2 separate regions of the Homo sapiens genome follow, and region 1 is linked to region 2. Evidence: fine-mapped expression QTL. Tissue or cell type: whole blood. Region 2 holds a variant in brackets; the other region holds the start of a gene. All regions are shown on one strand. Distances are between the middles of the regions.

The links. PIP is the estimated chance that this variant, and not a neighbour inherited with it, causes the effect.
Region 1: ORAI3 starts here. The variant in region 2 is fine-mapped to the expression of ORAI3 in whole blood (TOPMed, PIP 0.99).

What each region holds. Positions count from the first base shown.
Region 1 is chr16:30,945,183-30,953,182 of GRCh38, reverse strand. ORAI3 (ORAI calcium release-activated calcium modulator 3) reads right to left here and starts at 4,115. Exons shown (of 2, transcript NM_152288.3): 1 at 3,666-4,115. The coding sequence starts at 3,893. It overlaps FBXL19 (F-box and leucine rich repeat protein 19), which reads right to left. Exons shown (of 11, transcript NM_001382779.1): 10 at 6,235-6,453; 11 at 4,400-6,131. The coding sequence ends at 5,953. RefSeq lists enhancers at 1-182, 2,242-2,759, 2,760-2,989, 3,278-3,796 and silencers at 3,720-3,769, 3,810-4,069, 4,440-4,689.
Region 2 is chr16:31,074,708-31,082,707 of GRCh38, reverse strand. It overlaps ZNF646 (zinc finger protein 646), which reads right to left. Exons shown (of 3, transcript NM_014699.4): 2 at 1,007-6,462. The coding sequence starts at 6,383. Among named protein-coding and RNA genes, the nearest start is that of ZNF646, 4.3 kb to the right of the region's middle. RefSeq lists an enhancer at 7,520-8,000. The variant T/C (reference allele first, on the strand shown) is at 4,688.

The DNA.
Region 1 (8,000 bases), 130 kb after region 2:
GCAGGGACAAGAGGGGATGTACTGATCTCCCCATAACCTCAACTGTAGAGATTTTTTCCGCCTATCGGGATACATCACTGATACATATCCCTAGGACCTAGAACTGTGCCTGGCAGAAACCAGAGACATTCAGTCTCTGTTGAGTAAACGAATGGACAGCTTTGCAAAGGCTCTGTTCTGTTCTGGTTTCCCCACCTCCCTATCAAGAGGGCTGGATGGCCGGGCGCGGCGGTTCATGCCTATAATCCCAGCACTTTGGGAGGCCAAAGTGTGTGGATCACCTGAGGTCAGGAGTTTGAGACCAACCTGGCCAACATGGCGAAACCCCGTCTCTACTAAAAGTACAAAAATTAGCCGGGCATCGTGGCACATGCCTGTAATCCCTGCTACTTGAGAGGCTGAGGCAGGAGAACTGCTTGAACCCAGGAGGCAGAAGTTTGAGTGAGCCGAGATCATGTGACTGCACTCCAGCCTGGGCAACAGAGCAAGACTCTGTCTCAAAAAAAAATTAAAAATAAAAATAAAAAAAAGGGCTGGATGACATGCTTCTAACAGGTTTACTGCATAGGGATCAAACAGCAGATTCTGGAGCTGGGCTGCCTGGGATCATTCTCTGCTCTAGCTGTGTAATCTTGAGCAAGTCAGTTCTCTGTGTGCCTCAATTTCCTATCTGGAAATAGAGATTGATAACAGCACCTCCCTGCCTTATAGGGTTGGTATAAACATTAAATGAAATATACATGAAATGGGCTGGGAGTGGTGGCTCACGCCTTTCATCCCAACACTTTGGGAGGCCGAGTTGGGCGGATCACCTGAGGTCAGGAGTTCAAGACCAGCCTGGCCAACATGGTGAAACCCTGTCTCTACTAAAAATATAAAAATTAGCCGGGCGTGGTGGTGTGCGCCTGTAATCCCGGCTACTCAGGAGCTTGGGAGGCTAAGGCAGGAGAATTGCTTGAACCCAGGAGGCAGAGGTTGCAGTGAGCCGAGATCGCACCACTGCACTCCAGCCTGGGTGACAGTGTGGGACTCTGTCTCAAAAAAAAAAAAAAAAGAAAGATAAGAAAGAAAAGAAAGAAAGAAAAAGAAAGAGGAAAGGAAAGGAAAAGGAAAAGGAAGAAAAAGAAAAAGAACAGTGCCAGGCACAGAGTAAGCACTAGGTATGTGTTTGCTGTTCTTGCTATAGTGAATGCTAAAGTCTGAGGACAGAGTTTACAAATCGGCACACTGTGGACCACTGCCAGCTTGCAGACGTGTTTTGCTTGGCTCACACAGTGTGTTTCTTAAAAAATGGAAGATGCTGCCAACTTGTAAAACTGAAGAGATTTCTTATATCCCTATTTCCAGATCCCCTTGAAAACTTGGAAGAACTAGCCACACTTGGCCTGCGTTCCTGCATGGCAACTATCAGCTCAAATCAGTCATGGCTGCTCCCCTTGGAAAGGTCATGGGGTCTCTCTTTTTTTTTTTTTGGTAGATGCCAGGTCTTGCTATGTTGCCCAGGCTGGCTGGACTCGAACTCCTGGGCTCCTAGGCTCAAGCGATCCTCCTGCCTTGGCCTCCCAAAGTGCTGGGATGAAAGGTGTGAGCCATCACCCCCAATGTCATGGGGTCTCTTGCTTGCTAGTCCCTACCCAGCCAATTTGGCATCCATATTACCTGCCTGGCCCTTTGCAAACATTTGAGTTGATGACCCTATTCTAGGAATTTATAAATTTGGAGTCTGGAACCAGACGGCTTAGGCTCAAATCCTGCCACTTACTTGCTGTGGGACCTTGGGCAGGTGTCTTAACATCTCTGATCCTCAGTTTCCTCATCTGTAAAATGGCCAGAGTAGCAGTACCCACTTTGTAGGCTAACAGATGATGTATATAAAGGCACTGAGGGCAGTGCCTGGTGCTTAGTGACAGCTGGATACAATTTGTATAATGCTATTCTAACTTAGGCCACCTGAGTTTCAGAAGCCCACTCTCTCCCCATCCCTGGTTCTTGTAGGGTCCATTCGATTGCTCTGGGCCTGGGGAAAGAAGAAGGTAGGTGTAGAGGCTGGCGGGTGGAGGTAGGAAAACAGGGCTGAGTATTTTGGGAAATTGGGCCATGGCAGGTGTCAGGAGGTGTTTTCCACAGACAGGGATCTGGGCCAGGCTTAGTCCTGGTTTCTCCCAGAGCCTGGCCCAGCCTCGGTCACCCCTGCTAGGACTGCGGCCAGTCCTGCCCCCGGAACCTAAACCTCCAGCCCCTTCCTCCTGCAGAGAAGGCTCGGGCCCTTAAGCTGTCACCCCAGCAACCTGCACCTGCATATTCTGCCGTGGAGGGATTGTCTCCTTGGGAACAGGCTGGACCATGGGGTTGACCTCCCTCAGCTTGGGTGGCTGCTCCCTTCCCTCTGCAGGCTGTGCAGATGAAGGGGAGCCAACATCCTGTCCCTAGGTGATGCCCCCATCATGAAAGGTAAGCTGGTCTGTGGATTCTGGGACCCCACATAGAAGACCATAGGCTTATGATGACCCTTAGGGTTAGAGAGTTTCCCTGTCATTGTTCAAATATGGAGGTTGTGGCACAGACAGGGCAGGGACTAGCCCAGATCCCCTAGCGCCATGGTCCCCACCCCAACCGCCTCTGATATCCACCCCCACAGGAGTGCGTTCCCCAAAGTACCTCCTGCAGCTCACTTTCTCCTTTTTCCTGGGGTGATGGTGGGGCAACCCCAGACTAACAGAGCAGCAACCCTGGGTCCCAGTTCATTCGCTCCTGCCCAGAGGCAAGGCTTTTACTTTCCACACCTGTCCAATTAGCAGGCTAGTCTGAGCCATCCTTGGTACGTGACCTGCTCTGACATGCCTGGCTCACCCTGGGGCGGTTACTTGGCTGGCTACAGAGGGCGCACCCTCCATGATCTCAGTTTCCCACTGGCTTGCAAGCGGGGTGGAGGCCTGTCCAGGGTCACACAGCTGGCCACAAGCAGGGAGGAGCCAGGACTGTGTCTGCTGATCCTCACCCTGGGACCTCCCTCCATCCCACTTCCTGTGAGGCCACTGCTGGGGCAGACCGTTAGCCAACACCGTCCTCCTGCACCTGGGGTTTATCAGCTTGAGACTCGCTTATCAGTTTCCTCATCAGCCTCCTTCCCCAGCGGTTCCCTCCCGGGCATGATCTCTTGTCAGTTTTCCTGGTTGACACTAGCACCCCTTGGGCCCGCTGGAGAGTGGCCACCTTCCCTGGGACGGGCCCACCTTCAGCTGGGTGACCCTTCCACCCAGCTAATCCATCTCGAGCCCCCCACCTGTTGATGCAGCCCCCACCCAGCTGACCTGCCTTTGAAGCTGGCACTGGGACTTAGGAACCACTTCTGCCAGGTACAGGCTCCATCTGGACCACTCTGCCTCACTGTTGCAGTCAACCCCACCAGCGATTTGTTCACCCCACTCCCACTACGACACCTTTAGGACTTTCGTGTCCTCCGGTGGCCCCGTCTCCTGGGGTCCCCTGTACACACACATCCGTAAGAAGGGACTTGCTCAGTCCCGCGGGACCTTGTTCCTTCCCCCTTTGACGAAAGCCCCCTTTAACCTGTCTCCCTTGGGACCTGTTTACTTCGCCCCCCCCCCGACCTGTGCCCCCCACTTGCTCTGCCCCACCGGGTGTGACCCCTCCCGGCCCCTCACCATGGCGAAGCCCGAGAGCAAGGCAGACGTGCGGCTGGAAGCTTTGAGCTTGGCCCGGCTGAGGTAGAGGCGGCGCCAGCTGAGCGCCCGCAGCGAGTGCTGACTGGCCCCCATGAGGTCCAGGTAGCCGCGGTGCACGAACTCCCGGTACGTGGCCGAGCCTGCAGGGCTCTCGCCCTCAGGGTTCAGCGGGGCCTGCTCGCCCGCGTCCCCCTCGCCGCCCTTCATCCTGGGGGGGGGGCGGCACCAGGCGGTCACTACGGGGCGGAAGCGCCTCGGGGGCCCCAGCCGGGCCGGCCCAAGCCCGGGGGCGGCCCCATTCCCAGACAGGACGAGCAGGATGCAGGCGGCGGGCGCCCAGGAAGAGGCACCCCCAGTGGAGCAAGAAAAGCAGCGTCTGCGGGGAGCCCCAGGAGCCGGAGCGGGACAGCGGAGGCCAAAACAGGAACTGGGACAGAGGCGGAGCCGGGGCTAGCCACATGATGGGGTGGAGCCGGGGACCAAGTCCCCGCAGTCCCGGGCCCGCAGAGATTCCCCGCGACCCCTACCCACCAAGAACGTTATCCAAGCGCCCGGACCCCACCGAGGTGCACGCCAACCCCAGCCCCCTCCAAGGTACAGCTGGACACCCCAGGTGTCCACACTTCCAAATCCCTCCCAAAATGAGTCCAGGAGAGGTGAGCCCACTCATCTGTAGGTAGGGACCCCGCAGATACACACACGAACTCCGCAGCCCCGGCTGGAAGATTTTGAGTTTTATAGCAAACCGTATTGTACAGACCCGGGGCCCAGGGGCCCAGCCCGGCTGGGTCCCCCGCTTGCCCCTCGCCGGGCTGCCTCTTCCCTCCCCCAAGCGGCCCCATTCTCAAGCCTCTCGCTATCCCCAGGCCCCACCCCTCCGGCCTTTGGTCCGCCCAGCCCTCCCCCCACCCGCGCACCTCCCTGTTACCTGAGGTATGTGGATAGATCTCCCCTCCCCTACATGGTAAGCCCCGGCCCCCCGGAGGCCTGCGCGGAGGGGCGGGACCTGGCCCGGCTCATCCCCGGGGTCCCGAAGCCCCACCCCGCGCTCGAGGAAGGGGCAGGGAAGGAGGGCCAGCAGAGTCTGTTACTAGGTTCCCATGGCAACTAAGAGGGGGCCATTTCCAGCCTTAGCACTGGCATCGGGAGGTGTCCGTTGGCTGCTATTTCCATGGCAACCAGGAGTGGCAGTTCCCTGGGCAAATGGGATACAAGTTTCCATGACGATGAAAGAGTGGGAAGAGCCAGGCTGGAGGAGTCCCATGGTCCCCATTCTTGGGCTGGCGCCCCCAGCCATAATGCGGGTCCGGCGGGTGCCGCCGCTCAATACAGTAAAACAAGAACAAGCCTGGGGGTGGCGCAGTCCCAAATGGGCGCCCACCGGCCCGGTCTCAGGTCTCAGTCCAAGCTGGTCCAGTCCCCTCACACCCCGGCTCCCCCAGGTCCGAGATTCCCCCGGTTCAAGTAACACTTCAGTACAGATGAATGTTCAAGTATTGTGCGGAGAGGCGGGCAGGGGGTTGGGGCGCCCCTCGCCACTCCCCTGGGCCGCGAGCTGAAGAGCGGCTGCCCGCGGCCCCCACTCCTTGCAATAGCTGCCGTTTTCAGTGACGTTCAAGGAGTCAGGGTCAGGGGGAAGGAACTGAAGCCTGGGGAGGGGGGAAGCAGAGAGGTGACCCCCAAGGGGGTATTGCTGTCCCCACACCTGCTCTCATCCCCACCTCCAGCTCAGCCCCAGCTTGCCCCTGGTTCCCCTACCTCTGACACCTGGATCCCCAATTGCTCCTCCGGTTTTCCTTTTGTGGCCCCACCCCCACCCCCCACTCCAAGTAACTGGTCTTTGTTCCCTGAACCCTTGGTGGTCTGCTGTCTGCCCCGCCCCCCGCCCCTTCCACCTCCCCCAGCCCCTGGCTCCCATATCCTGTGTGTGTCCTTTCCCCATTCTCCCCCCCAACACTTGCACCATAACCCCCCTCCCACCGTCCCTTCGGCTCAGCACCCTCCAGTACCTCTGACCCACTCCCCCAGGGGATGGACAATGAAGCAGGTAGCAGGGGCAGGACATAGGAAGGAGAAACCCCCAGAGATATCAGTGCAGGGGGGAAAGAAGGGGGTGGCTGGCTTGAGTCCCTGGGTGGGAATCCCAAGTCACTGACACTCAGGAATCCCAGGGTGGTGAGGTGGGAACCTGGCCTCCCAGCAGGGGTGAAATGAAGCCGGAGGTCCAGGCTCCTGTCGAGTCCGGGGGAGGGTGGGGGGCGCCCAACTAGCTGTCCTTGAGAAGCAGCTTCTCCTCAGGGCAGCGGAAGGGGCCAGGGGGCCCGGCAGCTGCCAGCCGGGCACAAGCTTCGGGTGAGAGCTGGCGGCAGGAGCGCAGGTCTAGGCGGCGTAGACGAGGGCAGCGGCGGAACAGCGGGAGGCAGTGGTCCGTTAGGCGGTGGCAACCTGGGGATGGGGCAGTGGAGCTGAGACCAGGCAGGTGAGCAAGGGGTTGGCACTGGCCGTGGGGATCCACAGGCTGGCAGGACGGATGGGGGACCGTGCTTACCAGCAAGATTGAGGTGCACCAGGGTCTCGCGGAGTGGGGACGTGGGGGCCGTGAGGAGGTGAACACTGGGGTCCCCGACGTGGGCGCAGTGGCTCAGGTCCAGGGCGCTCAGCTGGGGTGCGTGACGCAGCAGGAGACGCAGGGAGGCATCTGTCAGCTCCAAACCTGCCAGACGCAGTTCTGCCACCCCCTGCAGCCGACCACGGCTCTCTGTTTGCCCTGGGCAGCCAGATGAGAGGTCAGCACTCCTGGCCACTCCCATCCCTGCGCCCAGGTATCCAGACCATCTGCCCTCCACCTGCTTCCCACATAAGTGAGTGACCTGGTGCACTCTGTGGCTTGCTCTTCTCAAAAACACCCTCATGGCCTGACCTCATCTGTCCACTCCTCACATCACCTCCTCGGAGGCCTTCCATGATTATTGTATTTGAGACTACAATATTCTGCCAGGCGTGGTGGCTCATGCCTGTAATCCTAGCACTTTGGGAAGCCGAGGCAGGCGGCTCACTTGAGGTCAGGAGTTCGAGACTAGCCTGGCCTAACATGGCAAAACCTTGTCTCTACTCAACATACAAAAATTAGCCGGGTATGGTGGCAGGCGCCTGTAATCCCGGCTACTCAGGAGGCTGAGGCAGGAGAATCACTTGAACCCGAGAGGTGGAGGTTGCAGTGAGCCACGATTGTGCCACTGCACCCCAGCCTGGGCAACAGAGCGAGACTCCATCTCAAAATAAATAAATAAATAAATAAAAGAGTCTGTGACCTCCCCTCCTCTCTCTTGCTGTCTTGCCATGTGACATGCCGATTCCTTCACGTTCCATCAAGAGTAAAAGCTACGTGAGGCTTCCCCAGAAGCTGAGCAGACGCAGGCACGATACTTCCTGTACAGCTTGCAGAATCCTGAGCCAATTCAACCTCTTTTCTTTATAAATTACCCAGCCGAAGGTATTTCTTTATAGCAATGCAAAAACTAATGTAATTCTCCACACTCCTACCACTTCCTTGCATCATTTTTTCCTCTTTTTCTCACCATTTGACATATTATATGCATTTTTCTGACATACATACGTTTTCCTTTTTTTTTTTTTTTTTTTTTTTTCCCCGAGACGGAGTCTTGCTCTGTCACCCAGGCTGGAGTGCAGTGGTACAATCACAGCTTACTGCAGCCTCAACCTCCCTGTAGCTCACTGTAGCCTTGATCCTCCCACTTTGGCCTCCCAAAGTGCTGGGATTACAGGCCTGAGCCACCGCACCTGACCAGAGTTTACTTTTTTTTTTTTTTTTTTGAGATGGAGTCTCACTCTGTAACCCAGGATGGAGTACAGTGGTGCAATCTCGGCTCACTGCAACTTCCACCTCCCAGGTTCAAGCAATCTCCTTGCCACAGCCTCCCAAGTAGTTGGGATTAAAAGCATTTGCCACCACGCCTGGCTAATTTTTTGTATTTTTTTAGTAGAGATGGGGTTTCACCATGTTGGCCAGGCTGGTCTCAAACTCCTGACCTCAAGTGATCTGCCCACCTCGGCCTCCCAAAGTGCTAGGATTACAGGTGTGAGCCACCATGCCCGGCCCAGAGTTTACTTTTTTAACAAGTTCTCCAGTTTTGTGGATGCTGCTGGTCCCCCGACCACACTTTAAGAACCACAGCCTTGGGAGACAAGATCTCTGATCATCATTCCTGTTTACAGCCAGGAAACCCAGGCCTGGTGATGCTGAATCTGAACTCTTACCACAGTGTTGTCTGCCTCCCAGGCACCAGCCTATCC
Region 2 (8,000 bases):
CCTGTCAAGGGCCCACCATCTCAGGGCCACCCACCCTCGGTGGCCACTAGATGGAATGGGTCCGCCTCTACTAGGGGAGGTGGAGAGGCCAGCCCAGGTCCTGCTGAGGGAACCGGCCGCCCCACTCCCTGGCAGCTGCGGCTTCCAGCAGTGCTGGGTGGAGGCGATTCCCCACGGAGATGCCCTCTGATCAGGGATGTGACACGGGCTAATGACTGTTGTTGCTGCAGCTGGGCCTGGACTTCAAGGAAACAATTATCTGTGACTCAGTCCTCCAGTTAAAGGTGTGCAGAGGGTGGCAGGGTGCGCAGGTAGAAAGGGTGGTTTGGTTGGATCCTAAAAAGGCCGTTGGCAGCAGAGGGAAAAGGGGCTGAATAAAGGTTAGAGAAGAGATGGGAGCAACACTGACAGGGAAGGACCAGAGGTCTAGTTTCCAAGGAGAGGAGCAGCAGAGACAAGGCGCAGGGAAAGAGGGACAGGGAGTAGGGTGCCAACCAGTGAACCAGTTTCCGTGGCCAAGTCAGCAGGGAAGCCGTGGAGCCCATGCCCCATCCCTTGTTCCCTGGCACCCGGCCTGCTCCAGGAAAGAATGGAACCTAGACCAAACCAATGGCTTCCTCTTTTTCTCTGGAAGTCATTACTTTACTGGCTGACTCAGGAGGGTTTCCAGACACAGCAGCCAGGGGGTACCCAGTGACCTTCCCCTGAACAGAAAGACCATTCCATTCTGGCTACAGTGTAATGGAGGAGCCCAGGTAGCAGCCTCGGCCTGACCACGCCCCCACGTGCTGCCCAACCCACCCTGCTATTTGTTATACCTGACTTGCGGGTGCTCAGCTCAGCACATCCTCAAGCTACTTCTCTCACCCCATAGCCAAGCCCCCACCCACCTCTTAGAATCCCCGGGGCTCTCTCCTCTCACTCCTTGCTCCCCCACCGACTTTGGGGCTGGACTTCCCCCTCCACTGTGTGCCCACCTCCTCCTGGGACCCTTCATGCCCCCTACCGGAGCCGGCCACCGTCCACTCCTCCTGGTGCTGCTGCTGGTGCTGCACGAAGCTGATTCGGCGGCGGAAGTGGCGGGGACAATGGGGGCAGGTGAAAGGCCCCTCCCGGGGTGCATGGACCCGCCCGTGGCCCTCCAGCCGGGCAGCTGTCCGAAAGGCCTTGCCACAGATGCTGCAGCAGTGGCGCTTGGGGTCCGTGTGGGTCCTGCTGTGGTTCTTAAGAGACAGCAGGTTAGGGAGAAGTTTGGGACAGAGGGAGCACGGGTACAACCCTGTGGTGTGGGCCTTCTGGTGGTTCAGCAGGCTGCCAGCATGGCGGTAGGAGCGCCCGCACTGGGTGCAGCGGAAGGGCCGCTCCTTGTCCTCAGCCGCCATGGACGTCACCGCTTGTCCTCCCCTGGCTCTCTCCACACTCTCTCCTGGGCCTCTGGGGGTTTCTGATGGGGCCTCCTGGGCTTTCCCTTGACCAGGGAGAACCACCTGGTCCTCCCCAGTCCCGGCTTTGGGATCTCTGGCCTCCTCCATCTGGGCTGGCACCTGGCTGTGGCCCCGGGCATGAGCCTGCAGGTGGCTGGCCAGTTCCTGGTGGGACTCAAAGGCTTTGCCACAGTCAGGACAGGCAAAGGTCTGGGCGTCTATGTGGTTGTGGCTGTGGCTCTTTGTGGCCACAGGATTTAAGAACTCCTTGGAGCAGAGCAGGCAATAGTGTCGGTCTGTCTTGTTGGTGTTGTGGTTCAAGAGGCTGCCTGACTGGCAGTAAGTCTTGCCACACTGGCTGCAAGAGGAGTGGCTCCCTGGCTGCAGCTGAGAGCTGTTGTCTCTGTTGTCCCAGCTATCCATGTGACTCAGAGTAGGTCCATTGAGCTGGCAGTCACCAGCGTGGCAAGGACTCCTGTGGACACTGTCCTCTGGCTCCTCTGACCTAGTTAGGAACTGAGGAACCCAGCCTCCACTATGATTCCCCAGTCCCCCACCTACCGGCCACCCACCTGCCTTCCCTGCACCCCAGGACAGTGGCTCTGGGGCTTCTGAGCTTGCTGCCCTGATGGGGCTCTGACTGCGCTCCCCTGGCCTTGGGACTCCATCCTCCAAGTGGGGTACTGGCTCAGCACCACCCAATTGGGTCTCTAGTCCCTGGCTGCCAGTCAGGTTCGCCTCACTGGCCGCTGTGCCATCCAGGCCTCCCTGGCCATTGGCTGGCTCCCTTTCTGTCTCCTCATGCTCCCGCAGGTGCCGCTCCAAAGATCCCCGGCCAGGGAAGCTGCGGCCACAGAGGGCGCAACGCACAGCTGTGCGCCTGGACCGTCCAGCCCGTCGCCGCCGATTCTCTGAGTGCAGCCTCTGGTGGTCCTTCAGGGCCATGCGGTTGGAGTAGGTCTTGGGGCAGGTGGGGCAGCTGTACTGGCCCGTCTCGTGGCTGCGCCGGTGGTTCAGGAGGCTGCCGGCGTGGCGATAGGTCCGCCCGCACTGCCCACAGCGGAAGGGCCGATCTTCCCGAGTCGCCTTTCGGGTGCCCCCACCCCCACGCCGTTCCATGTGGACCCGCTGGTGGCTGGCCAGCTGTTTCCGCAGGCGGAAGGCCTTCCCACACTCGCTGCAGCGGAAACGTCGGGGATCTGCATGGATGCGCCGGTGGTTCTTGAGGGACATGAGGTTTGAGAAGCCCTTGGAGCAGGCCTGACAGCCAAAGTGGCCGGTCTGGTGGCTCTGCCGGTGGTTGATGAGGCTGCCGGCGTGCTTGTAGGATCGGCCACACACCTCGCAGCTGAAGGGCCGCTCAGAGCTGGCTTCAGTCTGGCAGCCCTTCTCGGCAGTCTCCAGCCTGGGCTCTATCTCCTCCCCCTTCACAGTGGTCTCCTCCCACACCTCTTCTTTCACCCTGGCCACTTCCTCCAGGGGCTCCACTTTAAGTTCTTCCTGGAGCTTCTCGACTTCTGCTTGCCCCGGCCCCTCCTCTGCCATGTGCTGGGGCTTGTTGCTGCCTCCTTCTGGGATGGGCCCAACCTGCAGCTCACTGCTACCTGCTGCCTCTGGGATGGGCCCAACCTGGGGCTCAGAGCCTTTGCAGCGAGGGTGGTTCCGCAGATGATTACGGTAGGCAGCCAGGTTGGGGTAGCAGCGGGAGCAGACAGGGCAGAGAAAGTCTCCAGTCTGGTGGATCTTGCGGTGGTTCACCAGGCTGCCCCCATGGCGATAGGTCTTGCCACACTGGTTGCAGCGGAAGGGGCGGGGCTGAGCCTCCAACAAACTTTCCCCACCCTGGATGCAGAGGCTGTCTCCCAAGGGGGTGCCTGCTCCCTCTTGAGACTTGGCATCTCCACCCTCTCCAGAGACAGAATTCACTATGTCCTCCAAGACACTGTCCACGACCATCTCCATGGCATCACCTGCCACTCCCAAGGGGCTGGGAGCCTTGTCTGCAGTAGTCCCAGAACTCTGACTTTGGTGGTGACGCTCCAGGCTCCCCAGGTCATCGTAGGTCTGACCACAGCAGCCACAGATGTGCCCATACCCTGCACTGTCCAGCGCTTCCACCTCCCGCTGCAGCTGATTCAGCAGCTCTGCTTCCGAGAGCTGCAGTGGTGGACTGCGTGCAGGGGCTGCCTCTGCCACTCCTTCCTCTTCCCCCTCCTCCTCTGAGCCCTCAGTCATGCCAGAGGAGCTGTGGGCCTGGCGCCGGTGAAGCCTGTAGCCAGCCCGCCCAGGGAAGATCATGCCACAGAGGCAGCAGAGGAAAGGCTGTGCTGAGGTCGCCTCCCCAGGCCTATGGTTCTGGAAGTGGCTGCGGAGGGCAGGCAGAGAGTCAAACTCCTTCGGGCAGAGGGAGCACTGATAGATGCCTGGTGGGTGGCAGGGCCTGTGGCTCAGCAGGCCAGTGGCATGGGGGAAAGAATGCCCACAGTCAGAGCATGTGTGAGCGGCCCCAGCCTGCCAGCCAGTGACAGCATTGGCAGAGTGGGAAGAGGAGTTGGGTTGGCCAGTGGCTGGCTTCTGGTCTTCATCCACCCCAGTGAGGCTATCGCAGAAGTGAGTGCCACCACCTTCCTCACCTGGGATGTCCAAGTTGTCAAGTAAACTGGCATCCTTCCTTTCCAGTCCTTCCCCAGTGCCTCCGCTCTCTTTATCACCCTGGAAATGGGTCTCATCCCTCTCAAGCCCACATTTGTCCCCTTCAGATTCAGCCTGCAAACAGTCCCCATCACTTTCCAGGTTGCCTTCAGCCCCATGAGGACTTTCCCCTGAAGGGTCTTGGGGAGACTCCAGGCCTTCATTGTCTTCTAGCTCCCGGGTCCAGCTCTCCGCTGCCAGGAGTTTGGCTTCTCTCCCACCGCTGGCACCGCCAGCCCGCTTCCGATGCCGCCTGCTCCGCCGCCGACTGTGCCGGCGCAAGTGGTTCTTCATGGCAGCCATGGTGTGGAAGTGCTTGGCACAGGCCCCACAACTGAAGTCTCCTGTCTGGTGGGTCTGCCTGTGGTTGATAAGGCTGCCTGAGTGGCGATAGCTCTTTCCACAGTCTCGGCAGGCAAAGGCCCTAGGAGGTGACATTGTGGTCTCTGTTCTGCTATTTTCCTTTTCCCCTGCCCCATGAGTCAGGCCATGACGTTCAAGGCTCTCAGCGTCTTCAAAGAGCAGCCCACAGATGCTACAGATATGTGCTGCTGTCTTGTCTGCTGCTGGGG[T/C]GATGTCCGTGGCCTCTTCTTCATGTTTGCACACATGGTCCTGATCTGTGTGCGGGGCTGCCTCTGCCTCCACTGGGTCAGGCGGGAGTTCTACCTTGAGGTGGCTGGGGGCACCCTCAGCCCCGATGTCTGCACTTCGGCGAGCAGCCTTGCAATGTACCCGCACGTGGTTGCGCAGGGCCATGAGATTGGGGTACTTGCGGGGACAGAGTGAGCACTGGTACTCTCCAGTCCGATGGCTGTGGCGATGGTTCACCAGGCTCCCCCGGTGGCGGTAAGCACGACCACACTCACTGCACTTATAGGGCCGATGGTCCAGGGTGGTGGTGGGGTCCTCTTCCTCTTTGTGGGTGGTCTCAGCCAGCAGCAGGGGAGCTGGTGGGACTGATGGCTGCCCATTTTCCCCAACTCCTTGCCTGGGCCTGTGATGAGCCCGCACATGGTTTTTGAGGGCAGCCGCATTGAACAGCTGCTTAGAACAGAGTGAGCAGGGGTAGACACCTGTCTGGTGGCTCTTTCGATGGTTGATGAGGCTCCCAGCATGGCGGTAAGTACGGCCACAGTCCCCACAGCGGAAAGGCCGGTATTCCTCCAGGCCACTGTCCTCCAGCTCCCCAGAGGTGCTGAGCTCCGCAGAGCCATTCAGCATCTGTGCACTGGGGAGCTGGTCCTGGCTGCTCTCATCTGTGTGCCCATTGGTGGTGGGCATCCCTTTCTCCTCCCAGCGTGGCTCCTGCCTTTCACCCTCATGGGACTGCTGGTGTTCCAGCAGCTCCCGGGGGAGCCGGAAGACACGGGGGCAGTGGGGACAGTGGTAAGGCCGATACTGGGCATGCAGTCGAGAGTGGTTCTTCAGAGCCATGAGGTTAGAGAACTCCTTGAAACAGATGGCACAGGGGTAGATGCCCAGCGTGTGGCTCTGGCGGTGGTTGGTGAGGCTCCCGGCGTGCTTGTAGGTCTTGCCACACTGACTACATTTGTACCGCCGCTCCTCCTCAGCAGGAGGGGACTGGGTGGGCTCCTGGCCCCCTGTGAAGTTCACTACTGATTCAGCCAGATACTGTTCCAAGTTGCTAAGAAGGCTGCTGGCTGGGATGGGGAGAGGAGGGGCTCTGGCAGAGTTAGTGGAGGGTCCCCAGCCGTCTGCACCATCCTCAGGACCTGGGTGGCTTGCCAAGCCTTCTCTTTGTCTGGTGGGCAGATCTTCCCACGTACCCGAAGCTGCCCTGGGGTCAGGTACAGATTCACAGTCAGGTGTCTCTTCTGTATGTTTTGTCTGGTTTTCCCAGCCTTCACTAGAGCCAAGCCTTTGGCCCCAGGAGTCAGTGGACACCGTCTCACCCTGGAGGTGTGGAGTGGCTTCCTTGGGGCGTGGGGGCCTGTGCCTGCGGCGGCCCTCAGGAGCATGTGTCCTCATATGGCTCTTGAGAGCCATGGGATTGGAGAAGTCCTTGCCACAGGTGGTACAGGGGAAAAGGCCAGTCTCGTGGGTCCGACGATGGTTAACCAGGCTCCCGGGGTGACGGTAGCCCCGCCCACACTGCTGACAACGGTAGGGCCGAGGGATGCTGTCAGCCTCCTCACTGTCCTGGTTGGGAGATGGATGGAGCAGTTCTCGGTGCCGAGAGAGCTCTGGGAGGCTGGGAAAGTGGCGCTGACAGTCGGAGCAGCTGAGTGAGGGGGGTGTGTCCTCCATGGGGCAACGTAGCAGAAACCTGGAGGTTCAGAAGGAGCAGACACGTGGCAGCACCTTCCTCTGGTGGAGGGGCCAAGGCCTAGGAAGAGGGGGCAGTGGTCAAAAGGAAGGCCTGAATTAACTTCGCCTCTTGGCTCTACGAGCAACAAGTTCACCTGAGGTCACTGAGAGGTTCCCCAAGCATCCATGCCCAAGGACCTAATTTCTACTAGATCCAATCTGCAGGCACCATCATTTAAGGCTTCCCTGTGCACAAGCTTCCCAAATATAGGAGCTCCCCTAGGCTTAAGTCATCCCTACAGGTATAGCTAAGGAAATTAAAGTTGAGAGAGATGCAACCTACTTCTGATCACAGACCTGTTATGTTCTTCAGACCAGACTCAAAAGGCATTACTGTCCTTTAAGAACAGTAGGAATCTGCTCCCTACAATCCTGAAACAAAAATTTTCTGTGACATCTTAAAAGGACACCAAAACCTTCTCTAGGCCTTTCAATAAGAGAAGTCCAAATCTTCCTACTTCATCTCTCAGCTAAACAGAGTAGCTGAGAAGCACTGAAAAAGCAGCTGTTTCCTCCAGTTAATAGCTGAGGACCTGAGAGGAGAGGTTAGAGGCCTCCTTCAGGGAAAGGGCTGGCTTGTTCCCCCACCACCCCGAGTCATTTCAGTGTCACAAGGTCTCTTTTCCTTGTGACAAGAGAGTTAAGAGAGTTAAGACTCTCTTAACTGGGCCAGGTGTGGTGGCTCACGCCTGTAATCCCAGCACTTTGGGAGGCCGAGGCTGGTGGATCACCTGAGTTCAGGAGTTCAAGACCAGCCTGGACAACATGGTGAAACCCTGTCTCTACTAAAAATACAAAAATTAGCCGGGCGTGGTGGTGGGCACCTGTAATTCTAGCTACTCAGGAGGCTGAGGCTGAAGAACTGCTTGAACCTGGGAGGTGGAGGTTGCAGTGAGCTGAGATCCCACCACAGCACTCCAGCCTGGGTGACAGAGCGAGACTCCATCTCAAAAAAACAAAAAACCCCAAAAGACTCTCTTAGCGACTTCTTTTATCTACTTCCCTTGAACTCAAACTATCTTCCATCTTGGGAATAACATCAATACCAGGTTGTAATGTCACTTCATTGCCTACCTTTTCTCTCCCATGCCTCCTGATCTTACCCTCACCAGTCTTTCTCATTTTTTTCTTCTGCCTCCTCTCTTAATACTGATGATGACAGCAACTCATGAAGAGTATTATATTACCATGTGCCAGGCACTGTGCTAACTATATTCATTGTGTTACTCAATCCTCAGAACACACGGCAATGCCTGTTATTCTAGTTCACGTAACAGCAAACCCCCTGACTGAGGCGGTCTTCATCCCAAAGCCCTTGCTCTCTCATGCCCCCTACATCGTCTTGTCCTTCTCCAACTCTGACTCTTCTTCCCATGGGACCCCAGTACAACTGTCTCCGACCGTAAACCCCTTCACTGAACCTGCCCCCGGAATTCTCACCTCACAAAGCCCCTTTGATCAAAAGTCCCCTCCCCTAGTCAACCACCAATGAAGTCCTCTGACCTCACTCATCTCGTCTGCCAATTTCCTCTCAGGACGCCTACCTCGCACCGGCGG